Linked DNA regions of Homo sapiens: region 1 is linked to region 2. Evidence: fine-mapped expression QTL. Tissue or cell type: fibroblasts. Region 2 holds a variant in brackets; the other region holds the start of a gene. All regions are shown on one strand. Distances are between the middles of the regions.

Evidence for each region. PIP is the estimated chance that this variant, and not a neighbour inherited with it, causes the effect.
Region 1: STAT4 starts here. The variant in region 2 is fine-mapped to the expression of STAT4 in fibroblasts (GTEx, PIP above 0.99).

Annotation. Positions count from the first base shown.
Region 1 is chr2:191,146,312-191,154,419 of GRCh38, reverse strand. STAT4 (signal transducer and activator of transcription 4) reads left to right here and starts at 3,426. Exons shown (of 24, transcript NM_003151.4): 1 at 3,426-3,473; 2 at 6,216-6,344; 3 at 7,663-7,807. The coding sequence starts at 6,217. RefSeq lists enhancers at 3,007-3,086, 3,217-3,266 and a silencer at 3,737-3,786.
Region 2 is chr2:191,037,238-191,045,345 of GRCh38, reverse strand. It overlaps STAT4 (signal transducer and activator of transcription 4), which reads left to right. Exons shown (of 24, transcript NM_003151.4): 15 at 4,198-4,281; 16 at 6,049-6,147. Among named protein-coding and RNA genes, the nearest start is that of STAT4-AS1, 20 kb to the right of the region's middle. The variant T/C (reference allele first, on the strand shown) is at 3,491.

The sequences.
Region 1 (8,108 bases), 110 kb before region 2:
ATACTAATACAGTTTTGTCTTTTCACCCTGCTGACATTTGCACCAATGGTACCAAAGCAAAGGTGGGTGAAACTGTTGGGGCCTTAGCACAAAGCAAGGAAGTGGTGCCAAATTATACTAGCAGTTGTATATTTCACCACCATGCACTTACAATAAAATGCCAGTTTGACTTAAGAATGTTTTTGATGAAGCAGTAAAAATTATTAATTTTATTAAATCTCAGACCTTAAGTACACGTCTTTTTAATATTCTTTGTGATGAAATGGAAAAGGCACATATTAAAGGATGATGGTCATCTCGAGGAAAAGCACTTGCGTGATTGTTTGAGTTGCCAAGACGAGCCTGTCACTTTAAGGAAAACAACTGGTAGTATCTGCTGCCAATAATAAAACTGAGCTTTCAAGCAAAAATTAGAATTTGAGCTTGACTGCTTCCCAGTATTTAAAATACTTACATGATGAGATCAACATTGATATTACCTGACATGAATTTCTGAACACTGTATGATGAAATGTTGTATTCATTGTATGATGAAGTAGGCAGCATTTAGAAAATCTGCATACTTCAGTGGACCAATGTTTTTTAAATGACCAGTGTCTGACATTGCAAAATAATTTGTGGGTAATAGTTTCATTCAAAATATATACAACAAAAGATTTGAATGTAACAGTATACATAAAGTATATGTTTACATAAAGTATACATAAAGTATATGTTGATAAGGTTTCAGATTTCACAATGCAACTAGCCCTTCAGAAACTACCACTCATTGAGTTTTGATGTGGTATCAAAGAAGAATAATTATTTGAAAAGGTCATTATAATACTCCCCTTTTCCAACTACATAAATGTGTGAGTCCATACTTTCTTCAAATATGTCAACCAAAATAATACTTTGCAGCAGATTAAATGCAGAAACAGATATGAGAATCCAGCTGTCTTCTCTCAAACCAGACATTAAAGAGATTTTTAAAATGCCACTCTTCTCATTACGTTTTTCATGTTGGAAGATATATTTGTTTTTCTTAAAACATGTTTAACATGGAGTGGGTTTATTATTGTCATTTTGAAGGAATAAATACATATTTTAATTTTTTCTCAGATTTAAGTTTTAACACAGTAAATAAAAATTTCATCCAGAACAGTAATACACAAACATTCCTTGGGTTTGTCAACAATTTTTAAGGGAATAATGGTATCTTGAGAACAAAAGGTTTAAAAACTGCTGTGGAAGCCGCAAGGTAAGGCCCTGAAAAGGAGGAGGAGAACAAACTCTGTTTTGTACAGCAGGCACTCAACAATTGAATATGATAATGATAAGGACATGTAAAACCAGTGTGACTAACACTATGAGGCAGGAAGTGAAAAGTGCTAAATAAGTGGTCTAGATGTGCACTGTCCAACACGGCAGCCACTAGCCATATGTGGCTTGGAATGTGGCTAGTCCTAACTGACATGCCCTGTAAGTGCTAAATATACACCAGACTTCAGAGATTGAGTATGAAATAAGGAATGCAAAGTATCTTATTGATAATTTTTTATATTGATTATATGCCAAAATGTTAAGATTCTTGTATATATTGGGTTATTTACAATATTAAAATTAATTTCACCTGTGCTTTTTTCCTTTTTAATATGGCTATGAGAAAATTTACAATTACATATGTGGCTTACATTTTATTTCTCTTGGAGAGCGCTGGTTTGGACAGGAAGTATGAAGAATTTGGAGCAGGGAAACATTGCTGTGGGTTCAGGTCATCGGGAAGTCTTCACTGAGAACTATAGGATTTCACTAAGTAGGTAGGCTCAGGGAGGAATATCCAGTTGAAGAAAGCCTCGGTAGTGAAATATGAGGTTAATCTGGGCAGCTGAGGTGACTGCTTGGGTCACATCATGGGCTCTTATAGGGGAGAAAAGTTTCCTGGATAGGTTGGGACCAAACTGTACAGAACTTAAACTGCCAAGAATTTGGATTTTTTTCCTATAGGCAGTGACAGCTTCTCCAGAAGAAAATCAGACTTTGCTTAGTAGCTTATGGAATAGCCTGAAATTGGCACTTTCTTATGTAGGGTCAGAGCAGCATAAGCTCCTGGAAACTGCCTGCTCAACAAGCAGTGGGGACCAGGCCTACCTAACCAGGAAATTTACAGTGATATGGAAAGTGTGACTTTGGATTGATTGACCTATTTGGGGGTGGGTGGTAAGTTTAAGCACATGATAATGTCACCTGGGAGAGAAGAATCCAGAGGGTGTACCTGTGTGAAACCCGTCAGGGAAGAGGGAGGCAGGCCTTTCACCTTGGTATATTGCTCTAAGCATGTGTATAACCAAATTGAGTGACACTTTCTACCTTTCTTTCAGTCTGTCTGTCTGTCTTTATTTTTGTCTTTGTTTTACTATTTTTACTTTCTTAAACATTTTTATTGATTTTTTAATATACGGTGGGATTTTACTGTGTTGCCTGGGCTGGTCTCAAACTCCTGGGCTCAAGGAGTCCTTCCACTTCAGCCTCCCAAAGTGCTAGGATTACAGGTGTGAGCCACACGCCTGGACTTCTCTTTATTTTATTGAACCCCTACTGTGAATCAAGGGGTTAAGAGCTAACTACAAGGAGATGAAATGAAAAGACCACTGAAGTGGGAAGGGAAACACCTGGGCTATTATCGGGCTCCGTGGCTAACTTATTGAGTCCTCTTGGTCACCTCACTGGGTCTCTTCAGATATGAAAGAGGATTTAGCATTAGATGGGACCAAGACTTCCTCCAACTCTGTGATTCTAGAACAGGCTGATGTCACAAAGGGAGAAGAACGCACCGTAGCAACCAGGGGCAAGGCTACTCAAGGAGAGTAGGAGGAGGCTAGGTCAGGAAGGGCAAGCACTGGTGGCCTACCCAGGACTTGGCCCAACCCTCTGGGTCAGGTCACCCTCGTCGGAGTGAGCGGACCCCGCTGGAATTGGAGCCCAGTAAGGTCTATGAGTTTGGTGTTTTGATCCTGGCTACCCATCCCTTCCATCCCAGGGGTGGTTCACCAGGCTGAGTGGAGCCTTATACTAGGGAGAGAGGAAGCTGAAGAACTGGGCTCCAGGTAAGTAACTCTGCAGAGGATCTCAGATTGTCTAAGGAAACCACTGAAGAAAATGTATGCCCCGCCCCTCCCCTTTTTCCTGGCACTGCTGAGCCACCTGCAGTTGCGAGAGCCGCTGGGAGGGATAAGAGGGAAGAGGACGCCCGGTGAAGGGGCTCCAGCCTGGCAGTTTCTGCGTGTTAGCATTTCTAGAATAGAGTGGGTGGGAACTGACCCAAGTAAAGTCCCAGAGACTCGAACACTGACGCACAGGAAAGCCTCAAGTGGGAGGAGAAATGCAAATCCCCTACTGATGATGGCGTCAGCGGCTTTCTCCTAGGGACTGTGAGGGGCGCTTCTGACTTTGGACTTGAGCACTGCCTGGGACCTGTGCTGAGAGAGCGCTAGGTAAGTGGCCAGACCACACCTTCTGGCTGCCTCTTGTAAGGAGGACATGCTTATTATGCAGGATACTCTGAAGCTTTGCTTTCCCTTGGCGTTTTGACAATTGCTTCATTTTAACCTTCCTGAGGAGGCTTATTATAGAAGGAAGCGCCCGACTCCACGACCCACAGATGCGCCCTGGCACGGGTTCTCCGCGGAAACCGCTCCGCAGGCCCGCGCCACGGTGCCCGGGCGAATCTCCCTGCGGGGGCCAGGGGAGCTGCGGCGGCTGCGGAGGTGTGTCCTCGCGGAGGCTGAAAGTGAGCCCCTCTTCACTTTCTTAGCCAGCTTCTCTAGAGCTGTGATGTCTGACTTTAGATTAGCGTACCTGGATTTCAGAAAAAAGCTTGCAGCTACGGCAGCCGGTGACTGTGGCTTTGATGGGCGCGAGTGACATTTTAGGGCAGGTCATCTCCTTTTGCAAGCTACAGGCCACAGAGCCAAAGCGGCACCACCAGCTCACAGACGGTGGGACAAAATGCCCCTTTAGTGGGATCTTCTAGGAAATGCACGCAAAAAGGACAGACAGGCACTGAGTTTTCAGAAGCAACGTCACAGTTTTCATGAGAAAGAAGTAGCCCCTAGAGAGTGAAAGCAAAGAAACCTGCTGAAGGATGTCTAAAGGCGTTCCCAGAGGCTGCAATAGAAAATGTCCTAGGACTATGTATTCCTTCTTCTTCCTTTTTTCAGCTTTGAATTCAGCTCTCCGAAAGACTCAGATCTTAGTAGTGATTTTTTTCGGTGTTTATTTTTATTTTTTTTAATTTTCCTTTTATTTTCATTTGACACACAATTGTAAATATTTATGGAATATACAGTGATATTTCAATAAATATGAACAATGTGTTATGATCAAAGGATATTCAGCATATCCATCACCTCAAACATTTATCATTACTTTGTGTTGTGAACATTCAAAATCCTCTTAGCTTTTTGAAAATATACACTAAGTTATTGTTAACCATATTCATCCTAGTGTTACAGCACTAGAACTTATTCCTCCCATCTACCTGTAAGTTTTAGTTAGAAAATAGATTTTTCATCCAAATCATAGCGGGGGTTTAACAATAGTATGATGAAAAACTGTAATGCTATTTTCAACTCATGTTCTCTGTTGTCATTAACTAAAATAAATTGATAGATAGGACAATGTTGATAGTAGCATGAGAACAAATGTTCCAATTTTGTGTGGAATATATACACATCCGATGGAATATATATACATCCGATATCTGGAAAAACAAATGGTTCAGACTCAGGAAACCTCAGGTTGTCCCTTAGAAGCCTCACACATTAGGCAGGCGTCATTTCGCCTATTTGATCTTCAAGTTTTTCCTTTTTAAAGTTGACATACTACTTATATCCACCTACCATATTCATAGCAATGTCAGGAGTGCCACTCATTCTTCATTTAACAAGCATTGATTGAGCATTTACAATATGCCTAGAATTGTAAAGTGTAAAGGTTTTCATAAATATAAAATGATATGCAAATAAAACATTACTTCTTTTCCCACTTGCTTTCTCTTTAGCAAAACATTGGCAACACGTTTTTTTATAAATTTTAAGTCATTTACCAGGAGCTCAGGGAAAAGGTGCTCAAAATGATTCTACTTAAAACCCAAAGAATATGTATATGAAATATATGAAATTACCCTGGTGTTCTATAGGCAAAAGGAAACCTTAGCCTATCTATGAGATATGTTGAAATGTTATGGTGATTAATCATGTAAAAGGGGGTTTGGTGTTTTTACTTGACTTAGAATTGCTGAGAAAACAACCAAAAATTTGACTTTGGAAAACATAAAATGCTGTAATTTCAAGGAGGCAGCGTCATACTAATTTTCCTGAGTTAGGAAATATGTCTACAGCTTCTAAATTGGCCAGAGTGGGGTTACAAGGGGGAAATGCGTACTTTTCTTTTATGACAGGCTGCCAAATAGGTATCAAGTGTGGTTTCTTACTCCTTAAGTAACTTGAGGGTTTAACCACTATCAGATGTTTCTCAGAGACAAAAAGACTACATCCTTTAAGAGCTTTGCCCATCTATAATGGATCCTCACAGAGAGAAATGAAACACATTCACTGGTTCAGAAATATTTTTAATTTAAAAAACTGGAGCCTACGAAAATGCATACATAAAATTCTTCATGAAGCTAAGACAAAATTGGACTAGAAGTCAAGAACATAAAGCTGACTCTAGAAGCCAGACAAATCTGAAATAAAGAAAAAAGAAATTTGGCAATTTCATATAAAAGAAGCTTCTTGGGGGGTTGTTCCTCACATATAAAGTCTTAGAGGGTTTTAGGAGGTATAGTAAATGTCAAATACGTTTGCCTTCAAGTTGCTCCAAGTCTAAATGTTGAGGGGACAAGAGATAGGGAAAGAGCTTGTTGATAATAGAAATTCACATAGACAGCTGTGGGCAGGATGTGGGGTGTTTGGCAGAGTGGGAGTGAAAACTTTTTGGAGCAGGTAGAACAGGAGTTCATTTTAGAGCAAGGAAGGCTGTAGTTTAGGGGCACAGAAAGAAGGCTGCTCCCTTCATTAGGGTTGAATTATGAAAAAAAACCTTAGTGAAATTTTTGTATCCTTGGATATATTGGAATTCAGTCATAACATTGACTAATTCTAAGGAAAGAAGAAAATATGTACTAGGGCTATGAACAATATTTTAAAACTCTAATTCTACACCTTCTTTTATAGCATGTCTCAGTGGAATCAAGTCCAACAGTTAGAAATCAAGTTTTTGGAGCAGGTGGATCAATTCTATGATGACAACTTTCCCATGGAAATTCGGCATCTGTTGGCCCAATGGATTGAAAATCAAGACTGGTAGGATCAAACATATTTTCCCTAGAAGTTGATGCACAAATGTCTGATGCTCTATCCATGTGAATTTATTTTATGGTCCACTTTTTACTCAGTAGATGCATTCTTTTCAGGTAAAGAACTTTCTCAAGGATTTGAAAGCCTTCCCAAAGAAGGGGAATAATTGTCCTTTCTGGTTCCATTCATTGTAAATGAAAAGTTAATGGTTCCAGTGCTTCTTTTCTCTGTAAACAAAAACCCAAATAATTTTTCATGTATTAAAAAAAGAAGCAAATCAATTGATTGTCAGTTCTCTATCACAGACTCAATGTAAATCAATATTTTTTTCTCAGTAAGATTTATACTCTTCAAAGCTCTATTCACCTTATACCATTTAATTTTTTTCAGCCATCTTTTTTATTGTGGTAAAATACACATAACATAAAATTTACCATTGTTTTTGGTGTACTATTCAGTGGCATTACATATATTCACATTATTATGCAACCATCACCACCATCCATCTGCAGAACTTTTTCATCTTTCCAAACTGAAACTCTGTACTCTTTAAACAGTAACTCCCTAGTCCTCCACCCCCAACCCCTGGCAATCACCATTCTATTTTCTGTCTCTGTGAATTTGACTACTCTAGGTACTTTAGATAATTGGAATCACACAATATTTTTCCTTTTGTAACTGACTTATTTTGCTTAGTGTAATGTTTTCAAAATTCATTCATGTTTAACAGGTATCATATCAGAATTTTCTTCCTTTTTGAAGCTCAATAATATTCCATTGTTTGTATATATCACATTTTGTTTTATAAATGTATCTGTCAATGGACATTTGGGTTGTTCAAACATTTTGGCTATTGCTAATAACCCTGCTAGGAACATTGGTATGCAAATATCTGTTTGAGTCCCTGCTTTTAATTCTTTTGGGTATATATCCAGATGTGGAATTGCTGGGTCATATAGCAATTTTATGTTTAATATTTTGGGTAACTGTCATATAGTTTTCCACAGTGATTGACCATTTTACCTTCCCACCAGCATTGCACAATTTCTCTGTATCCTCACCAACACTCATTTTCTGTTTTTTCTTTTCCTTTTTATAATAGCCACCCTAATGGGTATGAAGTGGTATCTTACTCTGATTTTCACTTGAAATTCCCTAATGATTAGTGATGTTGAGCATCTCTTCATGTTAACAATTTAATTTTTTAAAACTTTTAAATGCTTATCACCATGTAATAGGTTTATTGTTTTAAAGTTAGTATGGTAAAAAAGTAGACATTTTACAAAGTTGTTTTCTGTTGTGTAATAATCCTTTTTTTTTTTAGGGAGGCAGCTTCTAACAATGAAACCATGGCAACGATTCTTCTTCAAAACTTGTTAATACAACTGGATGAACAGTTAGGTCGTGTTTCCAAAGAGAAAAACCTACTCTTGATACACAATCTAAAAAGAATTAGGAAGGTCCTTCAGGTAAGAATGCATTCTACTTTTCCAAAATATTTGGATATATGAGTCTTAAATTTAGTTAAAAATTAAATATGTACCCTTATATTATTTTCAAATGAAATTTAGGGGAAAATTGAGTTGTCTTACCACTTACAAATTTTGTGCTCAATTTTATTACCTAACATTTTTCATGAAATGTTGAAAATAAAATACACTAAAAGTATAGTGTATAAAATACATTACAAGTGTGTTGCATGTGGGACTTGCATGTATCTTGTTTACTAGCTATGATTCAGTTCAACAACACTGACCAGACCACAGTTTC
Region 2 (8,108 bases):
CAGTAAGCCTGGAATGAAGTCAGAGATCCTGTTTTTCTTACAAACTTTTAGGCGATGGCAATACTGCTGGTCCTTTTTTACCTACTATAAAATTTCATCAGGGACTAACTGCAATTTCCTACTTCTTTCTATGTCAAACTCCTCCCCAGAGGTGATTATTTTTTGAGCTGTAAATATCATGCTAATACTGATATCTCTTGATTTTTTTAAATTTTATATGTCTAACTTCTGATTTTCTATAAAAGGTTAAGCTATGTCTTTCTTATTACAGCTCTCCATATGTAGAAATTCTGCCCCATCTTCACAATATCATTATATAACATATTTTCGTTTACTCAATGTATTCGATGTTTACCTTACTATGATTATATAAAAATTGTTAACAGCTAAGCCATATAGCATACTATGATTGTATTTCCATTCTTGTATTACTTTTAGTTTTCTCTGGATTTAATAGTTTCCCTGAGTTTTTTATTTGATTAATTTACATACTTGTCACTAATTAAGCCCCAAACTTTCCATCAGAACTAGAAAACTCCTTACAATTTGGTCAAACATGTCCATCTATGAGTTCCTTTCTTCCTTTTTTCTTGGCAACATCGCTCTGGGAGCACTCTATCTTCTGGCTCCAGTCCTGGCTACTTGCCCTCTGATCCTGTTGTGCAATTGTGGGGTAGTTGTTTTTTGTTTATTGTTTTGTTCGTTTGTTTTTGAAACTCCCTTTCACCGTTATCCTAGGGAGTCCCACCCCCTTCTCCTGGCTGGGTTCATGTCTTCCTCTTTCTTAGGTTACTGTCTCCTTTTTATTGGAGAGACTCTTTCAGTAGTTTCCAGAGAAAAAGTACTAGGGAGCCAAATTTCCAGAGGACTTGCATATCTGAAAAAGTGTTTCCCATCCATAGTTGACTGATAGTTTGGCTGGATATAGAATTCTGGGTTAGAAATCATTATTCCCCCAAATTCTTAAAGCACTTTTCCATTGTCTTCTACTTATCTTGTATTCTGATTCTTAATCATTTATAAATGCCTTTTTATTCCTGCACTCCTGAAACTTTTAAACTGGTTTCCTGCAATTTTACAGCAATGAGTTTTGGTGTGGTCCTTCATTTATTTATTGTGCCAGCCATTCATGGGTCCTTCCAATTTGAACATTCATGTCCTTTACTTTGAGAAGTTTTCTTGTATTATTCATTTTTATAGACTATTGAAAACATGTAAAAACATAAAGAATAATAGCATGAACACCCATCAAATAGCTTAAAAATTCAAACTTTGCAAATATAGTTGAAGACACCTGGTACCCCCACCCCACCCCCGCCTTTAATCCTTTTCCTCTCTGTACCCACCCACCTCCCAATAACCATTGCCTTGAATTTTGATGTTTATTGTTTTCAAGAATGCCTTTATACTTTTTCTATGAATGAATATGTTTCTATATACTTTATATTATTCTGTATTATAAATTTAGATTTTACATAAATGGCATCCTTATGTATATATTTTATCACAACTTGCTTTTCTTGCTCAACAAAATATTTTCTGAGACTCATTCCTACGTTGATTCATGTTGCTGTGGATCATTTATTCCAACGCTGTATAGTTTTTTGCTCTATAAATATACACAGTATAGCTAGCTATTCTCCTATTGATGAATCATTTTAGCATTCTAAGCAGTTCTACTATAAACATTCTTCAATTAACATTCTTCTACATGTCTTTTTTTTTTAATGAGTGCAAAAAATCTTTGACCTATATATATTTGGTAGCAGATGAGTCAGAATCAGATGATTCAACAAGAATTGTTACGTATAGGTAATGTGCATCTTCTACTTTTCTAGATACTGAGGAATTGTTCTCCAAAGTGATTGTAACAATTGCATAAGTGGTATATAAGAATTACAATTTGTTTATGTCTTTGACATTTCCTCTACTCCATTTTCTCTGTTCTCTTTCCAGAACTTGTGTTAGTTTGTTGCTGCAGTTCATATATTAATTCTTTATTTGCTATCTTTTCTATTCTATTTTTGACGTCTTTGTGGGATTTTTTTGTTTGTTTTACATTCTGGGAAATTTCCTCTACTTTATGTCCAATCTTTTTACTGACTTGTCTATTTCTCTTATTATATTTTAAGTGGTTCTTTATTATTTTCAGAATGTTTCTTACAATAATATTCTATTCTTGTTACACTGATGTAATCTTTGTTTTATATAGTTTTTAAAAAGTGTTTTAATGTGCATTTTCAAATATATACAGGAATAGAGAATACGGCCGGGCGCAGTGGCTCACGCCTGTAATCCCAGCACTTTGGGAGGCCAAGGCGGGTGGATCACCTGAGGTCGGGAGTTCGAGCCCAGCTTGACCAACATGGAGAAACCCCATCTCTACTAAAAATACAAAATTAGCCAGGCATGGTGGCGCATGCCTGTAATCCCAGCTACTCAGAAGGCTGAGGCAGGAGAATCACTTGGACCCAGGAGGCGGAGGTTGCAGTGAGCCGAGATTGTGCCACTGCACTCCAGCCTGGGCAACAAGAGCAAAACTGCATCTCAAAAAAGAAAAAAAAAAAAGAGAGAATACAATGAATGAATTTAAGCATCACCTAACTTCAACAATGATTAATATTTTGCCTATCTTATTTAACCTATTTTTCACCTATACATACATTTTTCCTGGAGTTCTCAAATTCTAGATAGTACAGTATAATATAGATACTTCAGCAGGTATCTTTAGAATATAAGAAATGTTTAAACCTAACCACAATACACTTATCACAAAAACCAAAATAATAATTTTTTTAAAATGCTTCCTTAATAAAATCCTATTTTTTGTTCAAATTCCTCTATTGTCTCAAAAAAGGCCATTTGACAGTTGGTTTGTTCAAATCAGTATCTAAGCACTATCTTCCCATTACAAACGGTTGATCTGCGCCTTCAACATGCCATATATTTATTGAATAAACTGAGCTGAATACAGTAGACTTTTTTCACTGTTTTTTTATTCTTTTATTTATTTATTTATTTTTACTTTTTGCTTTTCCTCTGAGTTTTTTGTTTTTGCATTCTTATTTCATGTGAAAGTCTTTGTCAAATGCCTGATGATCATTAGCTTGCTGTTAATAATTAAGAGAAGGGCATTAAAAAACAGCCTGAAAATTCTATGTGCGTGTTGAGAACTGTAGACTTAGGGTGATTATTAGAATCTGGCTGTTTCAAAGGGGTGTTGGAGGACGGTGTTGGGTATAGAAGGCAGTAGCTGTATGTTACCTCCCTTGGTCTGGCAAACTTCCCAGATACCTTTCCAGGAGCTTTTAAGCCTGGCTCTAGATGTCGGAGAAGGGGCAAGCATGGGCTTAACCGTAAACTTTAACAGGACCTTCCACTCTTTAGCACACACAGCACCTAACCCCTGACTGCAGCTTGACCTTGTTCCCAGAATGTAGAGAGCCTCTGTAATTCCTCTGACTCATCCACTCCAAAGAGCAAACCTCCC[T/C]CCTGTGCCCAGGTCTGGAGGGGTGGAGACCTCACTGCCTGAGCTGGGGCTCTTACAGCACATCCTGGTCTGCAGTCTTCTTTTCTGCAGCCTCAGGGAGCTCAGTGCTTTCAACCTCTGGGTTCTTTCTTCTACCCTTACTCTACACTCCCCTACCTTTCACTCAGGGATCTAGATTACAGTTTTACTTTATTGGAAAGTGAATAAAACTCCAGCTATTACCTTATTGGAGTGTCTGGAGGGAACAGAGGAAAATACATGTACTCCACCTACCATGTTAAACCAGAAGGAGGTCTTGCATTCTTTTTGAACAGATTCATTGTGACACTAAGACTTGTATCTGTATACCTATGCATATATGGATTGCTTTTATTAACATTTGGTAAATCAAAAGTACCAATTTTCAAACATTAAAATAAGGAAAAACTTGTCTAAATTTCAACTGAAAAAAAACTATGCCAGAATTTTTAAAGCCAGAAATTATCTTGTTTTGAAGACTTAAAATCATTCTGTTTGGGGAAATGAAGATTTTCCAAACTGTATATAACTTTTAAAACAATAAGAGGGAATGTTCAATAATAGAGACTGTTTGGGGGTATTTACTTTATTAATTTATTAATAAATATATTAATTTATATAGAAACAAGTCTTCTATTAGATAGTGAGTATGCATTTGTGAGGTAACAATTTATTTCTCTCTTCCTTAGGGCTGTCACATGGTGACTGAAGAACTTCATTCCATAACGTTTGAAACACAGATCTGCCTCTATGGCCTGACCATAGATTTGGAGGTAGGTGTTTCAAGAACATACACTATTTACTAATGGCATTTGCAAGAATTGGTCAGCATTAATAGATGTAAGCTCAGTCTTTTCTAGGTTTTAGTACATTCCATATTCATTATTTTGTTTTAATTTAGAAAGTCAATATGTCAAATATTCACTAGTTAACATAATATTTTGGTTAAATATATATGATAAAAGCTTGTGGGTAGCTGGGTGCAGTGGCTCACATCTGTAATCCCAGCACTTTGGTAGGCCAAGGTGGGTGGATTGCTTGAGCCCTGGAATTTGAGACCAGCCTGGGCAACAGGGTGAAAACCCCCACCTCTACTAAAAATACAAAAATTTGCTGGGTGTGGTGGCATGTGCCTGTAGTCCCAGCTACTCAGGAGGCAGAGGCAGGAGGATTGATTGAGCCCAGGAGGTGGAGGCTGCGGTGAGTGCTGATCATGCCACTGCACTCCAGCCTGGGTGACAGAGTGAGACCTAGTCTCAAAAAAATAAATAAATAAAAAATAAAAGAAAATAAAAAGCTCAAGAGTATTACGAACTTTATATACATTAAATAATTTGTTGCTCAAGTTCTTGTTTGTTTGTTTTCTGGGATTTCCTGAGTCATGAACACTCAGTGGAAAGCCTAAAGAGAAATAAGTATCCTTGAGCTTATGTCATGTAGTGATATATTTTCTTTTTTTTGTAGTAATATATTTTCAAAAATTTAACTTTACATAAAAACTCACAGAAGGAAGATTTATCTAACATAATGAGCAAAGACAAATAATAGGAACATTACAGTATGTTGCTTTGATCCTCATAAAACAATCACCACTAAACTCAAAGAAAGAATAAAGAAACTTTTGGAATTAAATTGAACATGAATTGACTATGCGCTCCTTGAAGGCAGGACACCGTGAATGAATCAGTGCATGAATGAACAAACACAATCTCACACACCCTGAATATGATCCTATTGTGGAGTATATTGTTTTAGAATTCTGCCTTTGCTCTTTTATCTTAATGATGGTAATATGTTTGCAAAAGCTTTCATAGATTCCTTCCTCACCTCCTTTCCCTAAACCTCTGTTTTTATGAGTTGTTAAAGTTCCTCAAATGGGTATTTTACCATCTACAGGAATCTGATGTCTGTTATTGGGAAAAGAGTACTGTAAGTTGATTAGTTTCCCAAGCTAATTTGTAAAAGCCTGTTTATCTCATAAAGTAGAAAACCACAGAACCAAGAGTATTAAATTGAGTTAGTTCTGTAACAATAGCACAGACGGCTCTATCTCCCATAGCTTATCTCTCCTATTTTTACAATAGAAACCTCCCACTTCCAGTGTTTATGTTAATTAGGTGTTAGGTCATAATTTGAAGGTACTGATTCATTCCAGAGATAAACTTAAAATAGATTCTTTTATTTAACTTATAGAGAAGATTGTTGCTAATTCAATAGACTCTCTAATATATTGCACTTGAGACAGTGGGTGACATTTAAAAAGTATAAATGTGTCCGCAATGTCAGGGGAGATACTGGGAAGCTGCCTGACTGAGCACTCTGAAAGGATTCCTGCTCTTTCCTCTCTGTGCCCTTACTTATGCATGCTCAGAAAGTTCCATGGCCTTCACAAGTCATTTCAGTGACCAGGGCACCATGGACATCAGGACTGGAGGTGTGGGGCTGGCTTGAGATTGGCCCTTTAGAGGCGAGGGTCAAGCATAAGATCAATGTAAGGTGGGACTACCTGTAATAACTATGCTTTTTTCCCCCCAAACCAGACCAGCTCATTGCCTGTGGTGATGATTTCCAATGTCAGTCAGTTACCTAATGCTTGGGCATCCATCATTTGGTACAACGTGTCAACCAACGATTCCCAGGTAGACTCTATTTCTACCTCAACTTCTTTAATGCTATTCGATTTGTTTTATTGCCAACAAACACATCTGCATCAAAACATGTGTGTGCCAGTGGGGTGTGGGGTGAGAGTTGCTTTATTTGTAGTATTTCTAGTTGTATGTTTCCTCTCATGTCATATTTAAAGTAGTATGTTCTGATATATGTGGACCCTGAGAGAATTCTGCTAGCAAAAGTAACAGGGATTTGTTATTTCTGAGGGTCTGGTCAGCTGCCAACTATGTGCGTACCAGAGAGTTCCAGGGCCATCCTATGACTCTGTTAACTAAGCTGAAGGAAACTTCTTACCTCCCCAGCTGCTCTGGTCCCACCTTGTCCATGCAGTCTCTTCTACAAAGGTAGAGAATTGGTTTCCAAGTAAGTAAGTAGAATATTCATCAATCTTGCCTAATCGTATTCTGACAGTGCACATTTTCAAGTGGATTACAGATTTCATCCATCCTAGGCTCAAGCTGGGTTTTAATGCTATCTGGTCGTTGTGACACTGACCCAAAATTGGCCTCAAGTCACAAAGCAAGCAGTGAATAGGTGTTCTTCTTATAAGACAACCAGGGAAGGGAGTGGCAAAAAAGATGAGTCAGCACTTCCCCTTGCACCCCTCCTTCAAAACCTCAGTGTGTTGTCCTGGAAACCACTGAGGTCTAGAGAAAATAGGTCAGATGTAAATAACAACATTTCTTCTTAATTCAGAGCAAATGTTCCCTCCAAAGGGAAGAATTCTTCTACTTTAGATCCCAGTAGTAAGAACAAGATCATAATGAATCAGCTGTTAGTGTTCTTTCTCTTTGATTCAATGTTCTAATAAGGAAACAACGAGGAAAATGACTCAGGCCTACTCCTTCTCCTCCTCAAGTGCCCTAGCATCTGAGACAAATTAATTGCAGAGAGGAAGACTGTGCAGGGTGCCCCAAAAAGAGCAGAACTTACCAGAGAAATCGCCTGATCTTTAAGGCAAAGGACAGCCAATGCCCCTGAGATTAAATGCTGATCCCCATTAGATCTACACATGTTCAGCTTTCTTCCAACTCCAGGGAGTAGAAGGAGTGATGGGATACTTCTCTGTCCTCCAGCCTCACAGAGAAGTGCTGCACTTAGCTTTCTTCAGCAACCTCCTTCTGTAAGAAAGGCACCAAAGTCGTCACACCCATCATCCCAAATTTACATGGCTCTAGGATGAGAATCTAGAGCTATAGATAATATACAGCTCCTAAAACACAGATTCACAGCCTAGTTACAGAACCAGTCTAAACAACTAATCCTGGTTTCTCCTCTTAATTCTATCCTGCTTTGAAACCTAAGCCCTTAGGCCTTGATTGTATTCTGTGCTTTCTGGTCACTTTTCCAGGCACCATTCTCAGGTTCACAAAAAACCATCTCCCTAGAAATTCTTTCTCTTCATTCCTCCTCTTCCTATTGCCCATTCCTTGTTGGATGCTGTGTCCTCTTTCATTCCCACCTTCTGAAATCTCTTGAATTGGTTCTTTTTCTTGATTAATCTAAGCCCAATTTAGCTCTTGTTCACAACGGCCTTTTCCAGGCACCGCACTGGATTTCTGAATTCTTCCTTTCCTCTTCTTGAAACATGTTTCTTGAGTTTCACACATCTGTTTTCCAGTAATCTGGGACAGAGTCTTATGTTTCACTATTGTTGACCTGGTTTCTGGCACAATCTCGTTTGTAGTCGATCACACAGAATATTCTCTTATTTAGCTGGGCACAATGGTACACACCTGTAGTTTCAGCTACTTGAGAGGTTGAGGCAAGAGAGTTTCTTGAACCCAGGAGTTCAAGTCCAGCTTGAGCAACAGAGCGAGATCATTTCTCTGTTTTTGTTTTTTTTAATTATGTAGAGCAAATAAGAAAAGACTACTATGGTGTCCATAAAATAGGTATTTGAGGTTAATCATAATATTGTAGGGTCACC